Homo sapiens: one gene and its partners. The protein of the gene in region 3 interacts with the protein of the main gene of each other region in a biochemical or structural test. Each region holds a gene or a part of one and is shown on either strand. Other genes may lie near its edges.

What was found.
Region 1: the proteins of PALS2 (region 3) and TECPR2 interact in a test that uses a peptide from one of them, tested with the Homo sapiens proteins (one large-scale study listed by IntAct).
Region 2: the proteins of PALS2 (region 3) and ATRNL1 interact in a test that uses a peptide from one of them, tested with the Homo sapiens proteins (one large-scale study listed by IntAct).
Region 4: the proteins of PALS2 (region 3) and PLEKHH2 interact in a test that uses a peptide from one of them, tested with the Homo sapiens proteins (one large-scale study listed by IntAct).
Region 5: the proteins of PALS2 (region 3) and F11R interact in a test that uses a peptide from one of them, tested with the Homo sapiens proteins (one large-scale study listed by IntAct).
Region 6: the proteins of PALS2 (region 3) and TRPV3 interact in a test that uses a peptide from one of them, tested with the Homo sapiens proteins (one large-scale study listed by IntAct).
Region 7: the proteins of PALS2 (region 3) and GJD2 interact in a test that uses a peptide from one of them, tested with the Homo sapiens proteins (one large-scale study listed by IntAct).

Annotation. Positions count from the first base shown.
Region 1 is NC_000014.9:102,368,917-102,373,111, reverse strand, and holds part of TECPR2 (tectonin beta-propeller repeat-containing protein 2), read right to left. Parts: intron 3,369-4,195; exon of another isoform or gene 3,337-3,368; intron 2,696-3,336; exon of another isoform or gene 2,627-2,695; intron 1-2,626. UniProt on the Homo sapiens protein: Probably plays a role as positive regulator of autophagy.
Region 2 is NC_000010.11:115,302,340-115,306,534, reverse strand, and holds part of ATRNL1 (attractin-like protein 1 isoform 1 precursor), read right to left. Parts: intron 1-4,195. UniProt on the Homo sapiens protein: May play a role in melanocortin signaling pathways that regulate energy homeostasis.
Region 3 is NC_000007.14:24,688,452-24,692,267, reverse strand, and holds part of PALS2 (protein PALS2), read right to left. Parts: 3' UTR 1-3,816.
Region 4 is NC_000002.12:43,759,088-43,763,282, reverse strand, and holds part of PLEKHH2 (pleckstrin homology domain-containing family H member 2), read right to left. Parts: intron 980-4,195; coding exon 893-979; intron 1-892. UniProt on the Homo sapiens protein: In the kidney glomerulus may play a role in linking podocyte foot processes to the glomerular basement membrane. May be involved in stabilization of F-actin by attenuating its depolymerization. Can recruit TGFB1I1 from focal adhesions to podocyte lamellipodia.
Region 5 is NC_000001.11:161,014,284-161,018,478, forward strand, and holds part of F11R (junctional adhesion molecule A isoform 1 precursor), read right to left. Parts: intron 1-4,195. UniProt on the Homo sapiens protein: Seems to play a role in epithelial tight junction formation. Appears early in primordial forms of cell junctions and recruits PARD3.
Region 6 is NC_000017.11:3,515,942-3,520,136, forward strand, and holds part of TRPV3 (transient receptor potential cation channel subfamily V member 3), read right to left. Parts: intron 2,910-4,195; coding exon 2,635-2,909; intron 629-2,634; coding exon 516-628; intron 1-515. UniProt on the Homo sapiens protein: Non-selective calcium permeant cation channel. It is activated by innocuous (warm) temperatures and shows an increased response at noxious temperatures greater than 39 degrees Celsius. Activation exhibits an outward rectification.
Region 7 is NC_000015.10:34,752,199-34,756,948, reverse strand, and holds the start of GJD2 (gap junction delta-2 protein), read left to right. Parts: upstream 1-1,950; 5' UTR 1,951-2,460; coding exon 2,461-2,531; intron 2,532-3,576; coding exon 3,577-4,471; 3' UTR 4,472-4,750. UniProt on the Homo sapiens protein: One gap junction consists of a cluster of closely packed pairs of transmembrane channels, the connexons, through which materials of low MW diffuse from one cell to a neighboring cell.

The DNA of each region.
Region 1 (4,195 bases), on a different chromosome or scaffold from region 3:
CCACTTCATGGATGCAGAAACTTCTTATTCTTCTTTCCAAGGCACAGAAATAGTAAAAGGCTTTGTTTCCTTAAAGAGTGCATACATACATACTCATACACACATTGATGTGCCATAATTTATTTAACTTTTTAAAAATAAAGGTTTCTTTTTATAACAGTTATAAATGCTCACTATCAAAAAGTTGCTTTTTTTTTTGAGACTTGCTCCGTCGCCCATGCTGGAGTGCAGTGGCATGATCTTGGCTCACTGCAACCTCCGCCTCCTGGGTTCAAGTGATTCTTGTGCCTCAGCCTCCCGAGTAGCTGGGATTACAGGTGCCTGCCACCAGGCCTGGCTAATTTTTGTATTTTTAATAGAGATGGGGTTTCACCATGTTGATCATGCTGGTCTTGAACTCCTGATCTCAGGTGATCCACCCACCTTGGCCTCCCAAAGTGCTAGGATTACAGGCTTGAGCTACCACGCCCAGACTTGCTGGGATTACAGGTATGAACCACCATGCCCGGCCTCAAAAATTTGTTAATATAGAAAAGCACAAAGAAGGCTGGGCGCGGTGTCTCACACCTGTAAACCCCAGCACTTCAGGAGACTGAGTCAGGGCGGATCACCTGAGGTTGGGAGTTCAAAACCAGCCTGACCAACATGGAAAAACCCCATCTCTACTAAAAATACAAAATTACCTGGGCGTGGTGGCGCATGCCTGTAATCCCAGCCACTTGGGAGGCTGAGGCAGGAGAATCGCTTGAACCCAGAAGGCAGAGGTTGTGGTGAGCCAAGATTGTGCCATTGCACTCCAGCCTGGGCAACAAGAGTGAAACTCAATCTCAAAAAAAAAAAAGAAAAGAAAAGTACAAAGGCAGCTGGGTGCAGTAGGTCACACCTGTAATCCTAGCACTTTGGGAGGCCAAGGTGGGTAGATCACTTGAGGCCAGAAATTTGAGACCAGCCTGGGAAACATGGCAAGATCCTGACTCTGCAAAAAATACAAAAATTAGCCAGGTGTGGTGGTACACAGAGAATCGCTTGAGCCCAGGAGATCAAGGCTGCAGTGAGCTGATTATACCACTGTACTCCAGCCTGGGTGACAGAGTGAGACCCTATCTCAAAATAAAAGGACAAAGAAGTAAAGAAAAGTCACAATCTCATCATACTGAGATATGCCATGTACACAGATAGCTACAGATATATGTATATAAACATATATGCACACACACAGACTTTTTCACTTAATAAATCATGAGTATTTTCCATGTCATTAAATATTCCCCTAGAATGTGATTTTTAGTGACTATACAGAAAAACTGCAGAGAACACACTGTATGGATAAACCAAAATTTTCTCAACCAAAAGATTTTAATTTTGCCATCAAAAACAACAGAAATATATCCAAGTATATTCTTGGAGTACACTGCAAGAGGTGGAAATGTTGAATTAAAAAAAAATGTATTGCCAAACTGCCTTGAAGAATGTTCATATCAATTTATGCCTCACACGTTTTTCCAAAGGATATCTAGAGGCCCGTAAGCCATAGCACCCAGATGAGTCAGGACAGCCATGCCTGGGGGCCAGGTGCCCAAGAAGTCCCCAGCGGGCAGAAGAGAATCCATGCTATTTCCCTATCTGGGGGCCTCTGGATGAGCTTAGCACCAGGCTTGTCTGTCCTTCACCCACCATTCAGATAGGAGGAGCAGGTTGAGGCCAACTCCCAGCAAAACTGTCCTCCTGGCAGAAACAGTGTCTAGGACGGGCTGAGGAAAAGGCATAGAGCCGCTGTCTCACTGTCCTGCGCTAGGTTTGGGAAAAACAATGCAGACACAGCAAACATTTCTGCTAAGACTTTCTGCTCCTCCTCCTTACCCAATGTTCACCCAACTCCATGTTCCACCTCACCCAACCCCCAGGTCTCAGACCCACAGCCACAGAACTGACCCTCTTTCCACCGAGGAAGAACTGCACAATGAGTGGCTAATGATACTGAAGTGAAAAAGACCCAAGTTCAAATCCCAATGCTCCTAAAACTACCTGAGGCACCCTGGAATAACTGCTCAACCTCTCTAGATCTCCAATTACCATCTGAAATGGGATTAGTAAAACTTACATCCTAGCTATAAACACAGAGTAAATGAACAATGTCAAAGACACTTACCTATCTTGTATCTTCTACCAGTTGCCTGGGCCATGCTGACCAAGCCAGAAAAGGAGCATCATCCCTGATCCCTCCTCCTCTCCTCTCCATGTCCCCGATTCTCCATTCAGTACATCTCCCACACACCTCAGTGTGTCACCCCTAGCTCGGGCCACCATTACCTCTCACCTGCAGCTCTCTCTGGTGCCCAGCTCATCTGCCCGCCTCTCCCTCCCCGTCATCCACGTGGCAAACAGAGGGATTTTCCTGATGTGCAAAGCTGATGTCATCACTCCCTTGCTTAACACTCTGCAGTGGTCCCCATCTTCCTCCTGCTAAAGCCCAAGTGTTGCTGGCTTACAAGAACCTTGGTGATCTGGCCTCTGCCACCCGAGGATCTCTCACTTGTCCTCCAGCCACACTGAATTGCTTCTAATTACAACAGGCCTGGCCTCTCACGTCCTGGCCTTCACACCTTCTACTCCCTATCTCTGGCAGGCACTTTCGTATCTGCTTTAGCTCATGAGATCTCCTAGCAAGCAAGCGGAAGTACTGAGCTCTTCACCAGTAAGTATTGCCTAATGTTATTTCCTCCTTTAAAAATCTTATTACCGGCCGGGTGTGGTGGTTCACGCGTGTAATCCCAGCACTTTGGGAGCCTGAGGTGGGTGGATCACCTGAGGTCAGGAGTTTGAGACCAGCATGACCAACTTGGTGAAACCTCATCTCTATTAAAACACAAAAATTAGCTGGGCATGGTGGGAGGTGCCCGTAATCTCAGCTACTCAGGAGGCTGAGGCAGGAGAATCGCTTGAACCCAGGAGGCAGAGGTTCCAGTGAACCAAGATTGTGCCATTGCACTCCAGCCTGGGCAACAAGAGCGAAACTCTGTCTCAAAAAAAAAAAAGTTATTCCTCAGCCAGGCACAGTGGCTCACATCTGTAATCCCAGTACTTTGGGAGGTTGAGGTGGGCAGATCACTTGAGCCCAAGGGTTTGTTTGTTTGCTTGTTTGTTTATTTATTTTTTTGAGACAGAGTCTCACTCTGTCGCCCAGGCTGGAGTACAGTGATGCGATCTCGGCTCACTGCAAGCTCCGCCTCCCGGGTTCATGCCATTCTGCCTCAGCCTCCTGAGTAGCTGGGACTACAGGCACCTGCCACCACGCCTGGCTAATTTTTTGTTTTTTTGTTTTTTTGTTTTTTTTAGTAGAGACGGGGTTTCACCGTGTTAGCCAGGATGGTCTCAATCTCCTGATCTTGTGATCCACCCGCCTCGGCCTCCCAAAGTGCTGGGATTACAGGCGTGAGCCACTGCACTTGGCCGAGCCCAGGGGTTTGACATCAGCCTGGGCAACATGACAAAACTCTGTCTCTACAAAAAATACAAAAAAGTAGCCAGGTGTGGTGGTGCGTGCCTGTAGTACCATCTACTCAGGAGGCTGAGGCACAAGAATCAATTGAGCCCGGAGGATCGACTGAACCTGGAGGATCCATTGAGCCCGGGAGTTCGAGGCTGCAGTGAGCCATGATCAAGCCACTGCACTCCAGCCTAGGTGACAGAGCAAGACCCCATCTCAAATCAATCGATCAATAAAACTTTTTTAAAAATAAAAATATTTTTCCTCATAGTAGCTCTGTCAAATGATGACATTTAGCTTTCAAGAATCCATCCGCTTGATTTGATGCTATCCACTGACAGCTCGCAGGCTCTACACAAGAAGGGCTTTGAGACTGCAGTCTAGCTAGAAGGGAGTCAAGAGATTTGCCTCAAAAGTGCATTTGCAGAGCAAGTGCACTATTCTACTCAGATAATATGTTTATTTGTGGTGGCTTAGGAGGTCTTAGTGGGTATTACAAAAGGTCAGAATCCCTGACCATCTCCTTGGCACACTCAGTGATAATCCTACCAAAAGCAACTTCAGAACCCAGGGAGGGAGCGCAGGGCTGCCCTTGCTAGGCTCCAGCAGGTATTAGAAACTGTCACAATTGTCCGGCAGGTAACAGCATAATCACATTTTGAATCAAAAGTGTTGTTCAAGCTGAAATCCTAGTATTCACCCTCAATT
Region 2 (4,195 bases), on a different chromosome or scaffold from region 3:
AACTGTAAAAAAAAATTAATTTTAAAGATCCACATCAATCACTGAAAAACTGAATTAAAACAATGAAAAATTTTAGAATGCCAACAAGAAAGAAAAAAATCTTAAAAGCTCCCAAAGGGGGGATAAAAAAGATGTTCCACAAAGGAATGAAAATTAGATTGGCATTGGAATTCTTATCCACAACACTGAGTGCTAAAGAGGTTCCAAGGAAAAAATTATTTGGAATACCACATTTAGCCATTTTATCATTCAAGTGAAAATGAAAAGTACACTTTTAGACATGCAAAGACTCAAAAGTTTATGTCACAATTTATTTGAAAGAAATTACTAAAGATTATTTACCAATGGTTAAAATGGTAAAATTTATGTTATGTGTGTTATACCACCAAAAAAAATTGTAAAAAAACAAAAAAGTAGAACAAATGAGAAGGAATGGGATATAAGAAAAATTTGTGACAACATAAGCTTAATTCTAAATAATTTTTAGAAAGTTGTTAAGAGTATAAGAGCTTAGACTTTCACAAACCAGTTTTTCCCTACTTTCTAGCCTCTTTTATTGTGAAATATAACACACATACAATTACATAAAGAAAAATATAAGATTAATAAATTCCTATAAACACACACTCTGGACCTGCACAAAGCCTAGAAGTGGAGCATTGCCTCTCTTGTTTCATTTCCTAATCAGCACCCCTAAACTTCCCCCAGCAACATCCTCTAGCTGACATTTTTGAGAATACACTTTTGCCTTACTCTATAGTTTTACCACCTAAATACGCATTTCTAAACAATACAGTGCCGTTTTGACTATTTTTTAACTTTATACCTAAATGTAGTCAAACAGTATGTAATCTTTCATGTCTAGCTTCTTTCATTGAACAATAATGTTTGTCGAGAGACAAGCATGACTATTGAGGCAGGAGAAGGTGCGCATTGTCTCATTCCCCACAAGTCTTCAACTCTTGTATTCAACTCTCCTGGGCAGCTGGCTCCTAGTTTTGAAATGTTTTGCTATGCACAAAGGCCATTTTATGCCTGCAACCACCACACTGCCACCCACTTGATCAGGTACAACACCCCCATTCCTTACCACAATCCCTAAAAAAGGATATCAACAGGGAGCTCAACTCATAATACATCCAACCATGTCCATCCCAGGCATACCTCTCCACTTCATGCCAAGAGCCTGAAGGAACAAATGAACACAACAGCTGCAGCTGGGATTCCAGCCTGCATTGTGTTACTGTTTTGCCTTAGCTCTTCAAGTAACAGTGGTGCCCACTATGGACCAAATACATATTTGACTGGACCACTGAGAGTGATGAAAGGCCTAGAAAGTCAGTAAGTCTCTACGTGCATTGCCTTATGCAGTGGCTACCTCTAAATGGGAAGATGACTCATCTGAGCAAGAAGGACTAGTATCAACTGGGTGACCATGTTGTCCAAGGGCCATACACTTACAGGCTTCAACATACTAGATTTACCACCAACAGGGATCTCAGAATTATGAAGTTACTGTGATAGAAGTTATTAAGAAATTATTTTAGGCAGATAGAGAAAAAAGGAGTCCTTGGAAAGTTTTCATTTCTTTTTAAAACACCTCCAAAAGTGTTTCTTGTCTAACAGAAAAGTCCCAGCTCTTAGAGCCAAGCCGGCAACCTTTAGTATGCATATGCAAGCCATTAGAAACTGGGTCCACTCAACATGGCGATTCCCACCTTTGTCCTCTTGCCCTTGCCCCACATGTATTTGGGAATATGGCCGCCCCACATATCCCCATGTGTGTAGAACATCATGGTGCCCTGCATTTGCATATTAAAAGGCTAGGGTGGGAAGGCCAGTTTTTTTCCGAGGGCTACCTGAATGAAAGCCTGGTCAAACCAATCCCCTAAGCTCTATGCAAATCAGACACCCCCTCCTCCAGCCTCTACATATACCTGCCTGGTACGCACCACACTTGGGGTTTCCTCTTTCGGCTGTGGAGCCCCCATCCCTCTGTCTCTGTAAGAGCGAACCTTCTGCCTTTTCTTTTCTTTCTTGCCTATTAAACTCTCTGCTCCTTAAAACCACTCCACGTGTGTCCGTATTGTTTAATCTAATTCAACGTGAGACAAGAGCCCTGGTGTTCCTCCACTCATGGGAGCCATATCATTACTATAATTGCTAACTAGAATGGGTTGCCTCTCAGAGGAAAAACAAGAAAGCTCAAAGGAGGGAAGGAAGAGTGGACGGGCAGAAAATAAATATTGCTGCTGGGATAGTTGTTTGTATTTTCATCAGTCAGGCTGCCAGTGGCTGCTCCTATGGAGGGACTGCAAGAAAGTCAATGATCTAATAAGAAAGTCCTGAAGATACTTATGAACGTTATAGAAACAAGCTGTGTTATGGCCTACACTCCTAGGAAAACTCCAAGTGGCTGTTTCCTGGAGAGAAAGGGTCAGAGGGAAACCAGTGGACTGATGCAAAAACCTAAAATGGACCTTTGACCTTTAAAAGTTTCAAATATGACAAATGAAGAGAGATGATGATAGTGGAGAACTTAGGGCTGTTAGGAGAAAGGAATTAGAATCGGGATAAAGATCCCCTGGAGAGAATTCCTGTATAGAGAGGGAAACTGTTGCTTTCCCTATCTCATTGAATACATTTCAACCACAACATATTCCTGAGTTTAATAGATACACCAGACTCCAAGTGGCTGTTATTTTGTCTCCTTTGACTGAACTGTAACTACAGTTTCTTTGGAACCTGGATCAAACACACCAACATGTTAATTAGATTCACTCATTTCAAATCCTGTTTACTGCAGGTTAAAGTATTGGAAGAAAAAAAAATCCAAGGAGTCTTGCTCCTTTTTTCTTTGTGAGCTTCCTGGACACTCAGATGTTGAGAAGAAGGGAACTGAAAAAGAAGCAAAAGAACTTCTGATTTTATTTGTCTGTTTGGACTTTACCAAATAACTGATATTTTGCTTTGTTCAAATCAAAGCATCCTCAACGGACATAAACTTGGATACCGGCCGGGCGCGGTGGCTCACGCTTGTAATCCCAGAACTTTGGGAGGCCGAGCTGGGTGGATCATGAGGTCAGGAGTTCGAGATCAGCCTGGCCAACAGTGAAACCCCATCTCTAAAAAAAGTACAAAAATTAGCTGGGCATGGTGGCACATGCCTGTAGTCCCAGCTACTTGGGAGGCTAAGGCAAGAGAATCACTTGAACCAGGGAGGTGGAGGTTGCAGTGAGCTGAAATTAGGCCACTGCACTCCAGCCTGGGCCACAGAGTGAGACTCCATCTCAAAAAAAAAAAAAAAAAAAAACCTGCATACCAACTTTATCTCAGGTGATTCTGCAGCTTTCTATGGTGGTAGAATGGTAACTACTGGGCCCCTGAAAAGTATATTATTCAAAAAAAAAAGGACATAAAGTCTGGATTAATTACAAGAGGGACAGATACCAATGAGTGGGATATGAATGAATGCAACCAACATTGAGAAACAGGTCATGAGAGCAGCAGGAGTAAGTAAAACTTTCTACTTTTTTGTTCCAAATCTGAACATACCAATTAATTCAGGTGAAAAGGCATATTTTTGATGAGCGTCAGTGTCAAAGAGTGGATTGCAGAAAGATAAACCATATTCTCTGCTATGAAGAAGCTAGCTAAGATTGGCACTTTTTTCTCCCAAGCAGAAAGAGTTTCACACGGTCTTAAGTTCCTACAAGGCTAACAAGTGCTCCCAGTAGCATTATGCAATTCCCTTGGCAGCTGTATTCTGACGCCATTTGTGTTTGTAAGCAAGGCCACTCTCACCACATAGTACCCAGTATTAAATATTCATTCAGGTGCAGCCTTATCCTATAGTCCTTAGAAAACATGAGAGATCAGCAAGGGGCAAAATCTTTCTCCTGAAGTATAACTCATAGCAAGCCCAGTACTGCCCTGCTGACATAACTCTATGTGATTTCAAGACTGTGCATTCTATACTTGTAGCAGATATACCAACATTGATAAAATATTCTTGCCCCAAAATGCTTTCCTGAATCTAATCATGAGGGAAAAATTAGACAAATCCAAATTGAGAAACCTCCAAAACAATTGGTATAGGTTATTCAAAAATATCAAAGTCATATAAGGAAAAGATATGGGAATTGCACTAGATTAAAAGATACTAAAAAGGCTCACCAAAGCAATCTGTGATGTT
Region 3 (3,816 bases):
AGAATATTTTTTAAAAAGTACTGCAGTGTATTGCCAAAGTGGTGTGAACCATGCTTACTTTAGAAATGAGATATCATCATTCTTTCACTGTTTAGTATATTAAGGACTCATGTTCGAATCTCTGCATTTTTCAAAAACTATTCCAAGAACACAGAAGCTAGCATGATGAATTATGGGAAATATTTTAAAAAGAATATAAATTGCAAAACGTTAGAACAAAAATGCAATTTAAAAATAACCTTACCTTAAAAAAATTATAGAACTGTCATCTTCCTCAGGTATACAATATATGCTTGCATAAAAACTGACAAGATGCTCAATTATTAGTCAAATGTATTCTTAAATTTTGTGAGTATTCATTTGTACTATATACAATAATCCCATTATTTAAAAGAATGAATTTCTCCCAAAAATTCCAAATACATTACAGATGTTATTACATGAATTCTCACAGCAAACCTCTTGAAATAAGACAAGGGCAGGTATCATAATCTCAGCCTGAATCATATTAAAGATTCATTCAAAAGTTTAAATAAGAATTTCCAAAGGGGTTTCCATCCAGAACCCTGCCCTTTTTCCCTAAGAAAATTAAATTTATTATAATAATGACTACTTTCTGAGTTTCTCATATATTTTTCAGAAAGATTATCAGCTTCAAGGTGGAACCAGAGCGTTTTAAAACAATCTAAAAAAAGTTTCAGAATGTCAAAGAAATGGGAGTAATTAAAAATTTTAGAATGCTAGTTATAATTACATGAATGAATACATTCAGTTTTATATTCATACATTTTGGGAGAATTTTACATATTATACACATAGCTGTATATATATATATATATATATATATATATATATATATATACACACACACACACACATACATAATATATGGCAACTCGAACATTTAAAAAATGAACTGCTATCTATGTACATAAAACTTCAGGATTGCCTTTTTCATGTTTAGTTAAGGTTCATTACTACAAAATTATTGGCTCTCTAGCCTGTGATTTCTGGATAATGGAGTACTGTTTCAGAAGTTACAAAAGTAAAATTTAAGTAGATTATTATTTTGAGCAATTTTCAAAATTGTTATCTTTAGTTTGCCAATTCAAAATAATTTTACCTAACTCTATGGCTATCCACCTTGAAAATCAACTCCAGTCACTGGGATCATGACACTTGTTATACATAAAAATAAGTACCATTTAATAATTTTTAAACCAAGGATCATTTTTTATTGTCATTGGGATATTATGGTCAAAGCAGTTAGTATCTGGACATAATCTATAATGTCACATGGTTTTATTGCTAACTTGGGTTATTATCTAAATTTGCCTTAATAATCTATTTGTTGCTTTAAAGGAAACTTCTTAAGAACTACTATAAATTTATTGGATTCTAGAATCTAGGATTTAGGCTACTAATGCTGTAGGCATACTGGGTTTCTCTTATAATTTCTATTTCAGAAAGCTATGTTCAGCAATTGTATAGTTAGAGTTAGCCAAAATAAACAAAGTCCTGATGTATTTGACATGTGATATTACCAAATATCACACAGAAATGGAGACTGCATAATAAAGGCATGGCTGTAATGAAAGTGAAAATTCTACTTTTTAGGGCCATCACATTTATTTCACTAAGCTATGGTTAAATGACTTATCCAGGCACATCACCTCTATGGGTATTTGTACATTTGAAAATGAAAAAATATATATATAGTCTTAGGTTGTGTACAGTCATGCCCTGAGTGCTGAAATGTGGACACTGACCTATCCACAAGGAGCCCTCAGGCACATTAATACGTTGGCACATCATGTTTCCCAAAAGCACATGCATGTGTGTGTCTATTTCAACTCTTAACAATTGCTCAACACCACTCTAAACCATTTTCGCTTCCATAAAGCTAATTATCGCAGATCTTCCCAAAAGAGAAGTTCACATTTCCTTGATCACAGCTATACTCTCATTACCTAGGAAGAACCCTGGGACCTCTGGGGCTGTTTGCCCCCGCAGAGCACTGCTCATTCCTGCAGATTCATTTGGGACTTGGGTTTCAAGTTCAATGATTCTTCATTGAGATACAATGAACTTATCTAACTGTATTCTTGTTAGTACGGGCATCTAGACTGAAATGAACTAAACTGCATCATTTCATTTTATATTAGGAGAAATCTAATGTGCATTAATTAAGTAGTCAATCATGAATACCATTTATAATAGAAATAATTCCTTTAAGTATATTTTCTAAGTAATACATTTTATATCACATAAGGCTAATATACATGATGTAAAAGTCATCTATTGTACCAAGATGATTGAAATATTTTGCAGATAAACTTCTTGTGCTGCTATAATTATCCCAAAGCTGTTTAAAGAGGCTCCATGCTGCAGCATGAAAGTACATTAGAGAATACAGCACATTTCCTGAGTGAAGAACTGAAATTTCTCTTAAAATTTCAAGTGTGTGTTGAAACATTGTCATAGGGCATCACCTTGATACTGTGCTTTAATTCATGTTGCTTTGAGAAGCCAAGAATTTGGTGTAAACACATGTAGTTTGAAAGTTTCCACTGTTATTAAAATAGTATAATCCATTTTGTCACCAATTCCCTGTCCTAGGACAAGAAACGTGAATTTGTGTTCTGGCCATGAAATCTAGAATCAAAAAAAGAAAAAAAAAAAAAAAAAGAAAAACCTATAGATTTCCAACTTTAACAATATGACAACTTGGGTGTTTTGTTTTATTGTGAAAAAGATTTTAAACAATGTGTCAATACTGCCTATTGTCATATATTTTCTTTTCCTTCAAAGTCCTCCCAGCTGGCGTTCCAAATGACAACTTTGGTGAGGGAAAAAACAAATTCAGCAGCCAGGTGTCTGGCACCTAACACCAGACAAAGATGACCATCAATATTTAAACACCTAATCCTTTAAAGTGTGAATAATGTTTACATGAAAAGCTAGCAACAATACAGAATGTGGTTACCTTAATTTAATAATGAGCTGCATCTCTGAGTATGTTTTAGGAAGAATTTCTATTATCCAAGAATCCTAAAGGAAGATATTAACTGAGGTGAATGTGGGAATTTGTATAAGTCAATGCTTCTAAAGGAGAACTTCTTTCGGTAATCATTAAACAAAAAGTACACTTCTTGGCTAGGTGCAGTGGCTCATGCTTGTAATCTCAGCACTTTGGGAGGCCAAGGTGGGTGGATCACTTGAGGTCAGGAGCTCGAGACCACCCTGGCCAACATGGTGAAACCCCATCTGTACTAAAAATACAAAAATTAGCCGGACATGGTGGCACCCAACTGTAATCTCAATTACTTGGGAGGCTGAGGCACGAGAGTCGCATGAACCCAGGAGGCAGAGGTTGCAGCGGGCTGAGATCGCGCCACTGTACTCCAGCATGGGTGACAGAGAGAGACTCCATCTCAAAACAAACAAACAAAAAAACAAAGTACATTTTTTAACAGATATGTAAAAAATATACAAAACATTTTATATATATTATATAATACATAATATACATATTATATAATGTATATATTTTGTGTGTATGTATACAAAATAGCTGACAATTATTTCCCAATTTTTTAAGTTGTTCAATGGGTTTGGTTCTCAACACAACAGACAAAACAGGTACCCTAAGGATCACATCACATTTCTAAAAGCACAAAAACCTCCAACTGCAAACTTAGAGGCATCTCTAAACATCACTAAAATTTGCAGAGGCATGATACATTTGCTGACCATGTTCTAATAAAACCATTGTTTAAAGTAGTAGGTTCCTTTTGTCAGTCAAAATTTTACATG
Region 4 (4,195 bases), on a different chromosome or scaffold from region 3:
TGTCTGGCTACCTCCTGGGAGCTAGGGAGCTAGTTTTCTGAACTAAGGTAACTTAGTACTGGTGTATAGGTTTTTTGGTTTGTTTGTTTTTACTTTAAGTCACTGATTTTATAATATCTTCAAGTTATCCATTTAAAAACTAAAAGGCACTCAGAAAATATAACCCCTTGAAAAAAAGTGTGTGTGTGTTTGTTTTTTAAGCAATTATAAGGGGAAACAGTGACTATAACACAAAAGAATAGTTTGGTTTCCAGAAAATTTTCAGTGATCTTCTGATTATAGCCACAGGATTAGACCTGCCAGGTGAATTTAGTAATTCCTGCTCACCAGATTAAACAAAAAAGAGAATAAAATTGTATTAAATAATTAGACACATGAAATATGATAAAAAATGTAAATTTCGGGTAAATAAATGAACACATATAGATATCATAGTTTGAATTTAAACTATGTGAAAAGTGCTAAGATGCTATATAAATGACATTATAGGAAATTATAGAAATTGTTAAAGAAGCCTTAGTGAAAGTGAACTTAAACTTTGGTAATTAAAGTTCCCACCTTAATGATTTCTTACAGATTTTTATTTTACACAGGAAACAATCTTCTTAACACTTTTAAAAAATAATCATTTCATGAATGTAACCATGATCACAATTTAGTCATGGTATCAAGATTTTTCTCATACACAATAAACGACCTGTCTTATCTTGTTTTAAAAGGTTAAATTATAATCATAGCTGTATTTGTAAAATGACTGTTCATGACATAGTATTAGGAAGAATGTTTCCTGGGTAAGAGAAAAATCAGATTAAGATATCATTACTTTCTGTTTACGGTACACTGAGCAATGGAAACAGTTGACTTAATGCAAAACTTGAGCGTTTAAACTTACCATGGAGTTGTATTCTAAGAGGCTTAAACCATCCTCATGTACAGCCAGCCACAAGAAAGTACTTCCAAGTGATGATGGAGTTATGGGCTATGAAGAGGTGAAAATACACTATATTATAAATACTAAGCAAAATTACAGGAATATTTTTCAGTCTAAATGTCATGTAACATTTGCCATTAAACAACAATAATAACAACAAAAATTTATTAAAAATCTCGCCTAGGAAAGAGGCAGGGTGGTATACCGGAGCTAAGAGTGAATTCGATATTAGGAGACCTAGCTTTGAGACCCAAACCTGCCATATATTAATGTATGCATTTGGATAAACTACTGAATCTGTTTGAGGCTCAATTTCCTCATCTTTAGCATAGGAACAATAATGTTTATATTTTACTTTTCTTCTGCGTTAAGACGTTAATAGTCAACAAGTTTTTAGGGTTTCTATGATGACCAAAATCCTAATGAAGCAAAATATACTGATATGCTTGATAAGTTGTGTAGTGCTATTACAAGGTAAAAGATTATTATTATAATTGCACACCTTTCCTGAAAGTTTATTAAATCTGATATTCAATGTGTAATAAAAACACAATAACAAGAAAATATGAAACTGTGTAATCAATAGTAATGAGAAATATGAAAATTTCCACCGAATTTTTTATTGTAAAAGCTACGAAATTGACTGGGTGTTGTGGCTCTCGCCTGTAATCCTAGCACCTTGGGAAGCCGAGGTGGGTGGATCATCTGAGGCCAGGAGTTCGAGACCAGCCTGTGCAACATGACGAAACCCCATCTCTGCCAAAGACACAAAAATCAGCTGGGCATGGTGGTGCACGCCTGTAATCCGATCTACTTGGGAGGCTGAGACAGGAGAACAGCTGGAACCTGGGAGGCGCAGGCTGCAGTGAGCTGAGATAGTGCCACTGCACTCCAGCCTGTGTGACAGAGTGAGACTTCATCTAAAAAAAAAAAAAAAAAAAGCTAAAAGCTACTCCTGGTTCTCATAGAAAAAAAAAGCTATGAAATTATATTAATAAAAAGAATCTCCTACCACTAGAACCCAACTGAAACCCATGAATGTTTTTGAGCAATTAATGATGCTTGTTTGGTTCCATTAACAAATGAAATCCTAAAAAAAATCTTAACTATTTCCCTTAAATTTTACAAAACAATGTCAAGACTATAGATATAAAACTGGAATGAATGTTGGGTTATTTTATATAATAAAACTTGCTAGCATCTCATATATACAAAACCCTGAGTTAGAAACTGTCTACTGAGGGCTGATTTGCAAAGGATAGGGAGAATTCAATTCAAAAGGATGCCCTTCAACTCTAGTGTCCACTGACAGGTGAATGGATAAACAAAATGTGGTATATATATACCTACAGTGGAATGTTATTCTGCCTCAAAAGGGAAGGAAATTTTGACACATGTTACAACATGGATGAACCTTGAAGACATTACACTAAGTGAAATAAGCCAATAACAAAAGCACAAATATTATATGATTTCTCTTACCTGAAGTTCCTAAAGTAGTCAAATGCATAGAGACAGAAAGTAGAGTGGCAGTTGCCAGGGCTGGGAGGAGGAGGGAGGACTGGGGAGTTAGGTACAGTTTCAGTTTGGGAAAATAAAAAAGTGTTTAGATGAATGGTGGTGACAGCAACACAACAATGAGAATGTACTTAATGCCACAGAACTATACACTTAAAAATGGTTACAATGGGCCAGATGCGGTGGCTCACGCCTGTAATCCCAGCACTTTGGGAGGCCGAGGCGGGTGGATCACTTCAGATCAGGAGTTCGAGACTAGTCTGGCCAAAATGGTGAAACCCTGTCTCTACCAAAAATATAAAAATTAGCTGAGCGTGGTGGTGTGCGCCTGTAATCCCAGCTACTTGGAAGGCTGAAGCGTGAGAATCGCTTGAACCTGGGAGGCGGAGGTTGCAGTGAGTCAAGATTGCACCACTGCACTCCAGTCTGGGTGACAGAGTGAGACTCCGTCTCAAAAAAAAAAAAAAAAAAAAAGGTTAAAGGGTAAATTTCATTATGTGTATTTTACCACACACAGAAAACAGGATGCCATGAAGCAACAAAGGAGGTGTCGCTTGTTATAAAGAAAGAAAAGTGAGCAAAAAAGATGCTTGTCACGTAATTTGAAAAGCAATATTATTATTTAATAATATTTTGTGCCAGCAAGCACATTTTATCAGAACAGAAAAGGGTATTTAATATTACTTCCAATGCTGAAGTTAGAATTAAAATCCATGCTGCTCTACAGTTCAAATCTATTCCTTGTAATTTTAAAAAGTAACGTTCAACTTCCCGTAAGTACATTAATTTTATAGATGTTTAAGAATACTAACTTTATCATCTTTTTCTTAATTAGTATACAGCTTTCAGTTCCACTAGAAAAAAATTAATTCTCACCTATCAATAATATAGTCACTCATAGAATCAGAGTTAGAAGATACCTTAGATTTTACTTTTCTAATCTAAGTATTTCATTAACAGATGAGGAAAAGTGAGGTCCAGAGAGGTAACCTGACTTGCCCAAAGTTGCACAGCTATTCAGCAATATTTATTAAGTGATAATTATTAATTACGTGCAAAGCACTACAGTAGGTACAAGAGGAAGATTTTAGGATCAGTGAGTTTATAGTTTCAAGGAGCATGCAATTTAATAGTGAGTATAAAACAAACACACAGAAAAATATAACACAAGGCAAGATGTATCTTAAGAGCCTGAGAAAGTACAAAGAGACATGTTTCAACAGAAAGAAAAGGAATCAAAAGGCATAATTTTTCCCTTGGGGAAAGGGCTGGCCATCCCTGGGCAGGGTGGGTCTCCTTCCTCAGTGTTCCTGCAGCAGTCTGTTCATGTGACTCATAGTGATATTTGCCATACAGTGGTTTGTTTATAGGCCTGTTGTTACAAAGTAAAATAGTCCTGGAAGTTCATGTACAATCCATCTGAAACAATAGGTTATGTATCCCTAGAGCTTAGCTCAATGTTTAGCAGACAGAACTTAGTAAATACTAATGAGCAAATGAGTGACAGAGTAAACATGTGCATGGATGAATGAATGAACAGAAGAATGCAGAGTTCAGCTGTGGTTTAGGACTCATGATTCACCTAATGAGTCCAAGAAATGATTTAGGGTGGGAAAAGTTGGGCAGAGAGGAAAAGATAGAGAAGCTTTTCTGCCCTTTCTCTAGTGTCTCTTCATTGTTTTCTTTACATTATTGGATATTTCTTCATTTTTTACAAAAGCCAAGGATACTAAGTCTGGGGTAAAT
Region 5 (4,195 bases), on a different chromosome or scaffold from region 3:
AATCTATTTTTGGGTGTGGTGGAAACGTGTGTTGCCCATTTATGTGTCCACAGAACAAGTGCAAATTGAACTCAGCTGACTTGGAGGGGGGTGGGATGTATCCTAACAGCCAAGGCCACAATCCCTAGAAACCAATATGGGCCAGGTGTAGTGACTCATACCTGTCATTCAGCATTTTGAAAGGCCAAGGCAAAAGGATCCCTTAAAGCCAAGAATTCAAGACCAGCCTGTACAACAGATGAGACCCTGTCTGTACTAAAAAAATAAAAAATTAGCCAGGTATGGCTCACCACTCACACTTGCCTATAGCCTCAGCTATTCAGGAGGCTAAGACTGGAGGATTGCTTGAACCCAGGAGGTCAAGGCTGCAGTGAGGCCAGGCACGGTGGCTCATGCCTGTAATCCCAGCACTTTGGGAGGCCAAGGCAGGCGGATCACTTGAAGTCAGGAATTCAAGACCAGCTTGGCCAACATGGTGAAACCCTATCTCTACTAAAAATACAAAAATTAGCCGGGCAGCTCACACCTGTAATCCCAGCACTTTGGGAGGCCAATGGGGGCAGATCACAAGGCCAGGAGATCAAGACCATCCTGGCTAACATGGTGAAATCCCATCTCTACTAAAAATACAAAAAAAAAAAAAAATTAGCAGGGAATGGTGGCGGGTGCCTGTAGTCCCAGCTACTTGGGAGGCTGAGGCAGGAGAATGGCGTGAACCCGGGAGGCAGAGCTTGCAGTGAGCCGAGATCACGCCACTGCACTCCAGCCTGGGTAACAGAGCAAGACTCCATCTCAAAAAAAAAAAATTAAATTAAAAAAATATGTACAAAAGGCTGGGCACAGTGGCTCATGCCTGTAATCCCAGCATTTTGGGAGGCCGAGGCAGGCAGATCACGAGGTCAGCAGATCGAGACCATCCTGGCTAACACGGTGAAACCCCGTCTCTACTAAAAAAAATACAAAAAATCAGCCGGAGTGGTGGCGGGCCCCTGTAGTCCCAGCTACTCGGGAGGCTGAGGCAGGAGAATGGCGTGAACCCGCGAGGCGGAGCTTGCAGTGAGCCGAGATTGCTCCAGTGCACTCCAGCCTGGGTGACAGAGCCAGACTCCATCTCAAAAAAAAAAATATATATATATATATATATACACACACACAAAAATTAGCCAAGAATGGTGGTGCACGCTTGTGTCCCAGCTACTCGGGAGGCTGAGGCAGGAGAATCACTTGAACCTGGGAGGCAGAGTCTGCAGTGAGACAAGATCACGCCACTGGACTCCTCCCTGGGCAACACAGCAAGACTTTGTCTCAAAAAAAAAAAAAAAGGCTGCAGTGAGCTATGATCATGCCATTGTACTCCAGCCTGGGCAACAGAGTGAGACCCTGTTTCAAAAACAACAACAACAACAACAAAACTCCATGATATATATATATAAGCAAGATGTAGAATATATGTAGTATGCCTCTTTTTGTGTCAGAAAGGGGAGAAAAAACAAGTATTATTTATATATACTTGTATCTGTAAAATGAAACACTGAAGAGACATTAGAAACTATTGGGGTTTGGGGTGAACAGGAGCAACATGGGAATGAGATACCCCACCCCTTTGATATCATTTTAATTATAAAACCATGTCAATTAACCTATTCTAATTAAATTTTTTTAAAAAAAATCACAGTAGCTCTATCTTGAATCGGAACTGGGCTGGAGACTCCACAAGACATGATCACAAAGGAACTGAAGAGCAACATGGTGAGGTAAAAGTGGTCTGGAGTGGCCAGGTGCAGGGGTTCACGCCTGTAATCCCAGCACTTTGGAAAGCCTAGGCAAGAGGATTACTTGAAGTCAGGAGTTCGAGACCAGCCTGGCCAACATGGTGAAAACCCGTCTCTACTAAAAATACAAAAAATTAGGGGCCGGGCGCGGTGGCTCACGCCTGTAATCCCAGCACTTTTGGAGGCCGTGGCGGGCAGATCATGAGGTCAGGAGATCAAGACCATCCTGGCTAACACAGTGAAACCTCGTCTCAACTAAAAATAGAAAAAATTAGCCAGGCATGGTGGCGGGCGCCTGTAGTCCCAGCTACTCAGGAGGCTGAGGCAGGAGAATGGCATGAACCCGGGAGGTGGAGTTTGCAGTGAGCCGAGATCGTGCCACTGTACTCCAGCCTGGCGACAGAGAGAGACTCTGTCTCAAAAACAAATAAATAAATAAATAATACAAAAAATTAGCCGGGCGTGGTGGCGCGTGCCTGTAGTCCCAGCTGCTGGGGAGGCTAAGGCAGGAGAATCGCTTGAAGCCGGGAGGTGGAGGTTGCAGTGAGCCAAGATCATGCTACTGCATTCCAGCCTGGGTAACAGAATGAGACTCCGTCTCAAAAAAAAAAAAAGTGATCTGGAGCCAGAAGGCAAAGACTAAAGGACACTGAAATTCCACTGCCACTCGTTTCCTAGTTCCAGGTAGAACTAGGAAGTGCCAGTCACCAGTTTCTAGTTTGGAGGGAACAATTCACTCCTGGGAGTAGAGGGAGAGGAAAGGAGGAGTGACTCACCAGTGTGGGGAAAAGCAAGAGAGATCAGATTGTTACTGTGTCTGTGTAGAAAGAAGTAGACATAGGAGACTCCATTTTGTTCTGTACTAAGAAAAATTCTTCTGCCTTGGGATGCTGTTAATCTATGGCCTTACCCCCAACCCCTTGCTCTCTGAAACATGTGCTGTGTCAAACTCAGGGTTAAATGGATTAAGGGTTGTGCAAGATGTGCTTTGTTAAACAAATGCTTGAAGGCAGCATGCTCCTTAAGAGTCATCACCACTCCCTAATCTCAAGTACCCAGGGACAAAAACACTGCGGAAGGCCGCAGGGACCTCTGCCTAGGAAAGCCAGGTATTGTCCAAGGTTTCTCCCCATGTGATAGTCTGAAATATGGCCTCGTGGGAAGGGAAAGACCTGACTGTCCCCCAGCCCAACACCTGTAAAGGGTCTGTGCTGAGGAGGATTAGTATAAGAGGAAGGCATGCCTCTTGCAGTTGAGACAAGAGAAAGGCATCTGTCTCCTGCCCGTCCCTGGGCAATGGAATGTCTCGGTATAAAACCAAGACATTGTACGTTCCATCTACTGAGATAGGGAAAAACCGCCTTAAGGCTGGAGGTGGGACATGCGGGCAGCAATATTGCTTTGTAAAGCATTGAGATGTTTATGTGTATGCATATCTAAAAGCACAGCACTTGATTCTTTACCTTGTCTATGATGCAAAGACCTTTGTTCACGTGTTTGTCTACTGACCCTCTCCCCACAATTGTCTTGTGACCCTGACACATCCCCCTCTCAGAGAAACACCCACGAATGATCAATAAATACTAAGGGAACTCAGAGGCTGGCGGGATCCTCCATGTGCTGAACGCTGGTTCCCCGGGTCTCCTTATTTCTTTCTCTATAGTTTGTCTCTGTGTCTTTTTCTTTTCCAAGTCTCGTTCCACCTTACGAGAAACACCCACAGGTGTGGAGGGGCAACCCACACCTTCACACCAGTCTACGGTTTTGAGGTATGCCTGCCCCTGAAAGGGCAAAGCTAGAAGGGCTTGAGTCAGAAACATCAATAGTAAACACTGGGACTCAGAGAATGACCCAGAAGCAGGGCAGCAGTTCTGCCCTGCCCACGCGGAACTCTTCAGTGATGATACCACACTCAAGGAAGGGCAGGGGAGCAAATGCCAGCATTCCAACCCAGGTTTCCCTCTCTCCCCTGTGGTTACACTGTAAGTTGACCTATCCACACTCACCTCTACTGTGTCTCTCCCTACCTGGTAGACAGCTGAACCTTTTCTAAGGGACAGGTTCCCTAGGGAAAGGGAGGCTAGTACTCTGGGTCATCAGTTTTACTTTTCCCAAGTCCAGCTCTCCCAGTGTCTACCCTCTGGATCTCTGCCCCACAGGGTCAGGGTTTCCCCTCCATTAGGTTCCCCAAGCTGGGGCCAGGCCTTTGCCTGACTTGTCAGTCCTATCTTGCCTTTTCTACTTCCTCCCTGACAGCAGAGCCCACAATGAAGAACAGGGAGAACATATGGGCAACCTATCCACGCCTCTCAGGGACAGTGGACAAGCTAGACACCCAAGAAAAAGCTCCTGCTTTTTGATTTCTGACTCTAGCCATTTGGGATCTCCCTGCTTCCTTTTTTACCTACTCAGCTAGGGACAGC
Region 6 (4,195 bases), on a different chromosome or scaffold from region 3:
TTTGGGAGGCCAAGGTGGGTGGATCACCTGAGGTCAGGAGTTTGAGACCAGCTTGACCAACATGGTGAAACTCTGCCTCTACTAAAAATACAAAATTAGCCAGGGGTGGTGGCGCATGCCTGTAGTCCCAGCTACTCGGGAGGCTGAGGCAGGAGAATCACTTGAACCCGGGAGGCGGAGGTTGCAATGAGCCAAGATTGCGCCATTGCACTCCAGCCCGGGCAACAAGAGCAAAATTCCGTCTCAAAAAAAAATAAAAGAAGAAAGAAAAATGCAGAGAGGGGAGCCGCTGTTGGCAGTCTCCTTCTCTTTCTCTTCTGAAGCTCAGGAACCCCCATCTCAGGGCCTGCAACCCCATAAGCAAATTCCTTCTTCCAAGGAGGCCACTGGAAGAGACAGTAGCTGTGGTTATGGTTAGCAAGTGGCGGCACTGTTTCTCTAACATCCTGTCACCATCCTGCCCCTCTCTACCCACCCCAAAGACCACCACCCCAGGGCCCTTCTCCCTTTGTTACCGCAAACACAGTCGGAAATCATCCTCGGCCACTTTGCACAGCTCTCCCATCCGGAATCTGCTCCTCAGCCATTCTGGTAACATTTTCTCAAACTCCAAGATGGTCCTGGCTCTCTGGGGACATAAGCAAGTCTAAGGAGTAGGCATCCACACTCACAAGCACACACAAGGGCACACACACTGTCGGGGAGCCCACTCCACCCTCACCTCATGCTTAATGCATAGATCGCAAGGGTTTGGCTAATCTACAGAATTCAAAGACAAAAAAGCAGGCCGGGCACGGTGGCTCACACCTATAATCCCAGCACTTTGGGAGGCCAAGGTGCGTGGATCACCTGAGGTCAGGAGTTTGAGACCAGCCTGGCCAACATGGCGAAACCCTGTTTCTACTAAAAACACAAAAATTAGGGCTGAGCGCACTGGCTCTTGCCTGTAATCCCAGCACTTTGGGAGGCCAAGGCGGGTGGATCACCTGAGATCAGGAGTTCGAGAGCAGCCTGGCCAACATGGCAAAAGCCGGTCTCTACTAAAAACACAAAAATTAGCTAGGCGTATGTCAGGCGCCTATAATCCCAGCTACTCGGGAGGCTGAGGCAGGAGAATCACTTGAACCTGGAGGTTGGAGTTTGCAGTGAGCCGAGATCCCACCATTGCACTCCAGCCTGGGTGACAGAGCGAAACTCCATGATATAAATAATATTTCTGAAAGCCCAGGAGCTTCCTATCTGAAAGTGCTGGGGTCCTGGAATCCCATAGCAGAGGACCGTTCAAACATCATTTGTCCCACCCCCTCCCAGGCTTGGAATCTCTCTGCAGTTTCCTGGCCATAATTTTTCCAGTCTCTCTTGAATAGCATCAACAAACCAATTAAGAGGGCCTTGGACAGGCGCAGTGGCTCACACCTGTAATCCCAGCACTTTGGGAGGCTGAGGCGGGCGAATCGCTTTGAGCTCAGGAGTAAGCGGCCAGCCTAGGCAACATGGTGAAACCCCATCTCTACAAAAAATACAAAAATGACCCAGGTGTGGTGGCGCGTGCCTGTAATCCCAGCTACTTGGGAGGCTGAGGTGGGAGAATCACTTGAGCCCGGGAGGCAGAGTTTGCAGTGAGCTGATAATCGTGCCACTGCACTCCAGCCTGGGCAACAGAGCAAGACCCTGTCTCAAAAAAAAAAAAAAAAAAAAAAGGAGGGCCTTAATAAAGAGAAACTTCCATGTGTGACATCAAAGCTTTTCTCCCTGTAGTAACCCCATGTACATCTGCCTTCCAGGACCACAGAAGGGATCTGCTCCCTCTTTCATAGGTTGTTCTGCAGATATCCAAAGGCACGCTCACCTTTTTCCAATGAGCATTTCTTTTTTTTTTTTTTTTTCTATTTTTGAGACAGAGTTTTTGCTCTGTCACCCAGGCTGCAGTGCCATGACACAATCTCAACTCGCTGCAACCTCCACCTCCTGGGTTCAAGCGATCCTCCTGCCTCAGCCTCCCAAGTAGCTGGGATTACAGGTGCGTACTAACACACCTGGCTAGCTTTTGTATTTTTAGTAGCGATGAGGTTTCACCATGTTGGCCAAGCTGGGCTCGAACTCTTGACCTCAGGTGATCCACCCGCTTCGGCCTTCCAAAGTGCTAAGATTACAGGGGTGAGCCACCATGCCCGGCCGCCAACCACCATTTCTTAAGAGGCAGTCTCCAGTCCTCTCCCAAACCTGGTTACCACCTCTGAACCCATCCTATGCATTGGTTTCCTCAGCATGTAAGAAGTGTTCAGGCCAGGATAGAATAGAGCAGAACTGTCACCTCCACTGTCCTAGACGCTGTACTCCTCTTAATGCAACCTAAGGTCAAACTTCAACATCCACACATCACACTGTCAACCCTGAGCAGAGCACCCCCATGAGCCTGAGTTTTTCTACACATTCTGTTGCACAGCCACACTCCCTAGACCCTACACTCAAAGAACCTAGGCTAAGGCCTCCTCAAACCTGGCCACACACTGAGGAGCTTGTGCAGATTCTCAGGCCCCACCTCAGACCCACTGGTGCTGACAGTAGTCAATGACCACGTGCTGAACTGAGTCCCGTGGAGGCCCCCACGCTGGGGTCTCCACCTAGGCTCACCTGCAGGCGCCAGATGCGTTCGCTCTCCTTGGAGACGTTCTCCACAGTCTCGCCCATCAGAGCAATGAGCATGTTGAGGAGGAGAACAAAGGTGAGGATGACATAGGTGATGAGCAGGAACAGAAAGAGAATGGGATACTTGGAGTTCTGCTGGATGTTCAGGTCACCCAGGCCTATGGTGAGCTTGAAGAGTTCCAGCACTGCGTCGCTGAAGCTGCCGTAGGAGCTGCAGTCCTTGTTGTCTTTGGGACACTTCTCGATCAGCGAGGCCAAGGCTAAGGGAACATAACAGGGTGCTCTCCTCAGCTCTCTGCCTGGTAATTACTCTACAAGCTTGCGTGTATTTGCCTACATGACAAGCCTGCTGCCTCCTTCTCTCTGGCCATTAAATCCCATCTCCAGTTTCAGGTCCTCTCAAAGCCTCATCAGGCTGGCTTCTCTGGCCTGGCCTCCTGCAGAAAGCCCTTCCACCTAACAAAGCCCAGAGTCTTCTCTCCTTCCTTTACCCCGCAGTCTGCCCTTGATCACTTGCAGCCTTGCAGAGCCACTAATTATAATCCATGTGTGTGTCCCTGGCTCCCCAGCTAGTCTTTGAGCTCCTGACTTCCTCTAGCCTGGGTCACCTCCCTCAAGGCTGTAAGATCCTGAGTCTCCTCCTAATGCTCTGTTTTGAGTTCCCTGTGAGCAAGACCAGGCTCACACTTCCCTTCTTTCCAACACACCACAGTAGAGGTTCACTGCTGAATGGTTGGATGGATGGATGGATGGATGGATGGATGGATATGGAGGGATGGATGGAGGGATGGATGATTAGATGGAGGGATGGATGGATGGATGGATGGATGATTGGATGGATGGATGGATGGATGGATGGATAGATGATTAGATGGATGGATGGATAGATGATTGGATGGATGGATGGATGGATGGGTGATTAGATGGATGGATGGATGGATGGATAGATGGATGGATGGACCAATTGATCGATGGATGGATGGATGATTAAATGGATGAATGGATGGATGACTGGATGGATGGATGGATGGATGGATGGATGATTAGATGGATGATTAGATGGATGGATGGACTGATTGATCGATGGATGGATGGATGATTGGATGGATGGATAGATGGATGGATGGATGGATGGATGGATGGATGGATGGATGGATTGATGGATGAATGATTAGATGGATGGATGGATGGATGGATAGCTGGATGGATGGACCGATTGATCGATGGATGGATGATTAAATGGATGAATGGATGGATGACTGGATGGATGGATGGATGGATGGATGGATGGATGGATGATTGGATGGATGATTAGATGGATGGATGGATGGATGGATGGATGGATAGATGGATAGATCAATGGATGGATCGATGGATGAATGATTGGATGGATGGATGGATGGATGGATGGATGGATGGATGGACGGATAGACAGGTGGATGAGCAAATTAAATGAGAGAGTAAATAGATGGATGAATAAACAAGCAGGTGAAGGAGCAAATAAATAAGCAAATTGTGACCCAGAAAAGGTACCAGACAGATGGAA
Region 7 (4,750 bases), on a different chromosome or scaffold from region 3:
TTTAAAATATAGGTTCTATATATATGCGTCTTTGTGCACTTATACACCTATGTTGTTTGCACATGTTTATATGTGGAATCTATATGGCATATTAAAGTATATTTCAAAATAATACACAAATGATCAACAATTCAGTCATAGCGTAGTGTCTGATAATTGCATTTCCTGCAGTCTATGTTCTTAGGATCATAATCTTTAACGGTTTGGGAAAGCCAACACATAAAATGACAATTTTGAGTTGTGCAGCCTATTTTGGGACATTTAAAGATGTTAAACAGATTTCCCTTTGGACTTACTCATTCACTTCTTGGCTAAGATCATTTACTATAAGAGAGTCTGCCAGACAAGGAGGGAATACAGGGACCTAGGGCCAAGGGGAGTAGAAGGGAAACCTGGGAAAACACACCAAGTTTGGGTTAGGGGATCACCATTCCATCTGGAAGCTAACTGGATAATAGGGTATCCATTCGTCCTCACCCTTGAACCTCCTCCGTGTTCAGAAGGAAACTAATAAATCACTTTATCCCTCTCTCCATTGTTAGTGGACTCTTTTACTCCTTTGCAGTGAAAGGCTGCTTTCTTGGGGTAAAGATGTCAACCCTAGCAGAGGATTTCAGTGATCTTTCTGGCGGCGAAGCTTAGACCGTGTGTTTAAACATCATTTTATGAAGAAGTACACTGTGAGTGGACTGAGGGCCATGCCCTGCACCTTTCTTCCCAGTCCCTGGGCCACCAACTACCCAACCACCTCGGTTGTTCCAGAAGTGAAGGCTCACCATGGTGTGGCTTATGTAATATACATATGTGCTATGATCCCTGTGGATAATTAAGGCTAGGTCCCTTTATATGCCTAGGACAAGTTAGCAACCCTTTCAAGGTCGTGTTTTCGAAAGGATGACAATTACTTTCCCATTGGACTTTTGGTACATTTACATCAAACACTGCCAGCTACAGTGTCTCCTAATACTGACCCCTGGGCTAATTAGCAGCTTAGTGAGGTTGTTTCAATTTTTCAGCAACCAATTAAGTAGTTGCTCTAGACAGAACTGACAACACAATGTGAATTTTAAAAACCGGGATCTGCTGGTTGAGGGGAGAAAGCCAAACCCAGTAAGGCAAGTGGGGGCAGGGCGAGGCTGTGAGTGGCTCTGTTTCTGCTAGCAGAATACTGGGTCTTAAATTCAGATTAAATCACAGTTTACCTGACGAGTACCCCGCCCCCCCTTCCCATTAGTAAAATAATAGCAATAATTTAAAAAGAGCCGAGCATCTGGGTTAGTGCAAGGGGAAGCGAGACCTTTAACCATGGCCACCCCACTTGCTCTTTGCGAGGCACCTGTTAGATGCGCTCGTGTGCCCTGACCCCTATACCGAGAGACAGCTCCACACCTGCATTTACCCTTCAGCCTAAATGGATTCCCATCAAGCCTTTCTCACTTCACTGTCGGATCCACAGAGGCACCGAACCGCAGCCACTCTGCAGAAGCACTCTCAGCCACTCTGTCCCCTAAGGGAGATTTAAAAGTGGTCGCCCCCACTCGCCCTCCCTCAGCCAGCATCTCCATCTAGGGAAGGAATTTCAGTTGTCTCCAGGAGGCAAAAAGCGAAAAGGTGAGGGATGCACCGAGAGAAGAGAAGATACCTACTCACTCCCCTCCCCACTCACCCACGCGTCCGCTCCCGGCTCCCCCTCCGCCTGCTTGGGTCTGGCGGTCAGGTGAGGTTACCTGGGCTCCCCGAGAAGCCCCGAGGGGCGCTGCAGTCCTTCCTTTCGAAATCGCCCCGCTCCCCGCCGGGCCTCCAGGACTCTTGCCCCTCTCCCCCCGCGCGCGTCCCCGGCCCCTCGGGCTCCGACGCGCAGCGACAGCCGCACGGCGCGCTCTGCTCCCCTCCGCCGACCTGGCGTGACGCAGGCGGAGACTACTTAAGGGCGGATTAGAGGCGGCGGCCGCGGATCCCCGAGCCCAGCATTCGGCTCCGCGCGCTCGGCCCTGGCCTCGCAGGCTGCCGCGCCGGAGCGCCAGGTGCCCGCTGAAGTAGCAGGAACAGAGCCGGTGTTCGGACCCTCCCCTGGCCCCCAACCTGCGGCGGAGAGCGGCGCTGAGACTTCTCCTGGGCGGGCGAGCGCTGGAGGACCTGCAGGCTGCCACCCCGCCCCGCCCCTCGTCCCGGCGTCCGCGGGATCCAGACCCGAACCCCGGACGGCGCCCGAGGTTCGTGCCCTCTCTCTAGACCGCGCCAACTGCCCCATCGGTCGGGACGCGCTTGGATTTCTTTCCCCATTTCTTCTCTTTTAAGTACAATAAAAGGAAAGGGGGATTCGAGGATTTTTTAAAAAATTGCTTCTTTAATTGGGAGGCAATTCACTCCCATTCTGGAAGTGCGGCCCGGGGAGGGGCCAGGAGCGGGAACGTGCCCGGTGCTGCCCAGTCTTTGTCTGCTGCCTCCGGATGCACAGCGATGGGGGAATGGACCATCTTGGAGAGGCTGCTAGAAGCCGCGGTGCAGCAGCACTCCACTATGATCGGGAGGTAAGGGCGCCAAGCCGGCGGTCAGGGGGCCCCGTCGGGCGGCCCCCGGGAGTCCCTTCTCACACCTGGACTGAGTCTCCCGCTCCAATCCCCAGTCCGTCCTCTGCCTCCTCCCCATCGTCCTAGGTCAAGGCTCCGGTGTTCCCGGCGATGAGGGATTACCCGACGCCCCGCGATGCCCCCCTCCTCTAGCTACTCCTAACCAGCTGCCCATCCCTTCCCCATCAAGCACCACTGGGGCTTCACTCTTCCCACATCAGAAAAGGAGCCGCTGGCTCAGTCTTGGTCCCTCCACTCTCCAGAGTCAGAGCCAATCTCCATTTGGTTCCCTAAATAGAATCTACAAAGAAGGCAGGATTGCATTTGGACAGAAAAGGGCAAATGGGGAGATGGATTTGCTCTTCAGAGCAGATGCCTCTTTTCTCAACAAATAATTACTAAACCAAACTTATTTGGCGGTGTAAACTTACCGAGCCTACACACCCAATTGCCATTTTTGGGTCTGTATCTATATCTATGTCTCTATCTACCTAGCTTTATATATATATGAGTTCAATATATATGAATATATATTCATAGCCATCTGCTTATATAAAGCATTAAATTTAATATTCATGTTGAGAATAAACTAAATATACACATGGAGTAGTTATTTACACACCCTGTGTGTAGACCTCGAAGCATGCACCATCTGTAAAGGTATTCTGTGTGCATTTGCCATATCCAGAGTGAAGGTGTGTTTTGTGTTTCTATACATTCTATATAGAGAGATGAAATCTATCTGTTGCAAGTAGACTATGTCCAGTGTATGGAGATGTGTGTACCTGGGATCTCTATAATATGAAATATTCCCAGCCTACCAGCACTCAGCAGAAAAGGAAGAGACAAAAAGCTTTCCCAGATTCCTAGTTCAGTACCAGCCCGGGATGGACAGCTCCCCAGTCAAAAGACTGGTAAACACCAGCAAAGGGAAGGGAGGAGCAGGGGTTTCCTGTCAGTGACGCAGCCCGTGAGAACCTCTCTCCCTCCCTCTTCCTCCGTTCAGGATCCTGTTGACTGTGGTGGTGATCTTCCGGATCCTCATTGTGGCCATTGTGGGGGAGACGGTGTACGATGATGAGCAGACCATGTTTGTGTGCAACACCCTGCAGCCCGGCTGTAACCAGGCCTGCTATGACCGCGCCTTCCCCATCTCCCACATACGTTACTGGGTCTTCCAGATCATAATGGTGTGTACCCCCAGTCTTTGCTTCATCACCTACTCTGTGCACCAGTCCGCCAAGCAGCGAGAACGCCGCTACTCTACAGTCTTCCTAGCCCTGGACAGAGACCCCCCTGAGTCCATAGGAGGTCCTGGAGGAACTGGGGGTGGGGGCAGTGGTGGGGGCAAACGAGAAGATAAGAAGTTGCAAAATGCTATTGTGAATGGGGTGCTGCAGAACACAGAGAACACCAGTAAGGAGACAGAGCCAGATTGTTTAGAGGTTAAGGAGCTGACTCCACACCCATCAGGTCTACGCACTGCATCAAAATCCAAGCTCAGAAGGCAGGAAGGCATCTCCCGCTTCTACATTATCCAAGTGGTGTTCCGAAATGCCCTGGAAATTGGGTTCCTGGTTGGCCAATATTTTCTCTATGGCTTTAGTGTCCCAGGGTTGTATGAGTGTAACCGCTACCCCTGCATCAAGGAGGTGGAATGTTATGTGTCCCGGCCAACTGAGAAGACTGTCTTTCTAGTGTTCATGTTTGCTGTAAGTGGCATCTGTGTTGTGCTCAACCTGGCTGAACTCAACCACCTGGGATGGCGCAAGATCAAGCTGGCTGTGCGAGGGGCTCAGGCCAAGAGAAAGTCAATCTATGAGATTCGTAACAAGGACCTGCCAAGGGTCAGTGTTCCCAATTTTGGCAGGACTCAGTCCAGTGACTCTGCCTATGTGTGAGAGGGCAGGTTTCATGAAGGTCTGGGGGATGGCAAGGAGCCCCAAGGCAGATGACTGCTCAGACGTGGCTGTATCCACCCTCATTTATGTGACCCTCACCATTAAGATGTAGGATAAGACTGGATAAAAGAAGATTTTGCACCAATGGGAAAGGAGGAAAAGTGGACCCATTTTCACATATCACCTAATTGGTTCTACAGAGACGATTGGGTAGAGTGATGAAATGGATCAATTAGACTTCTTTGGTCCCTTTCTGTTTATGGCCTAGCCTGATCCTGA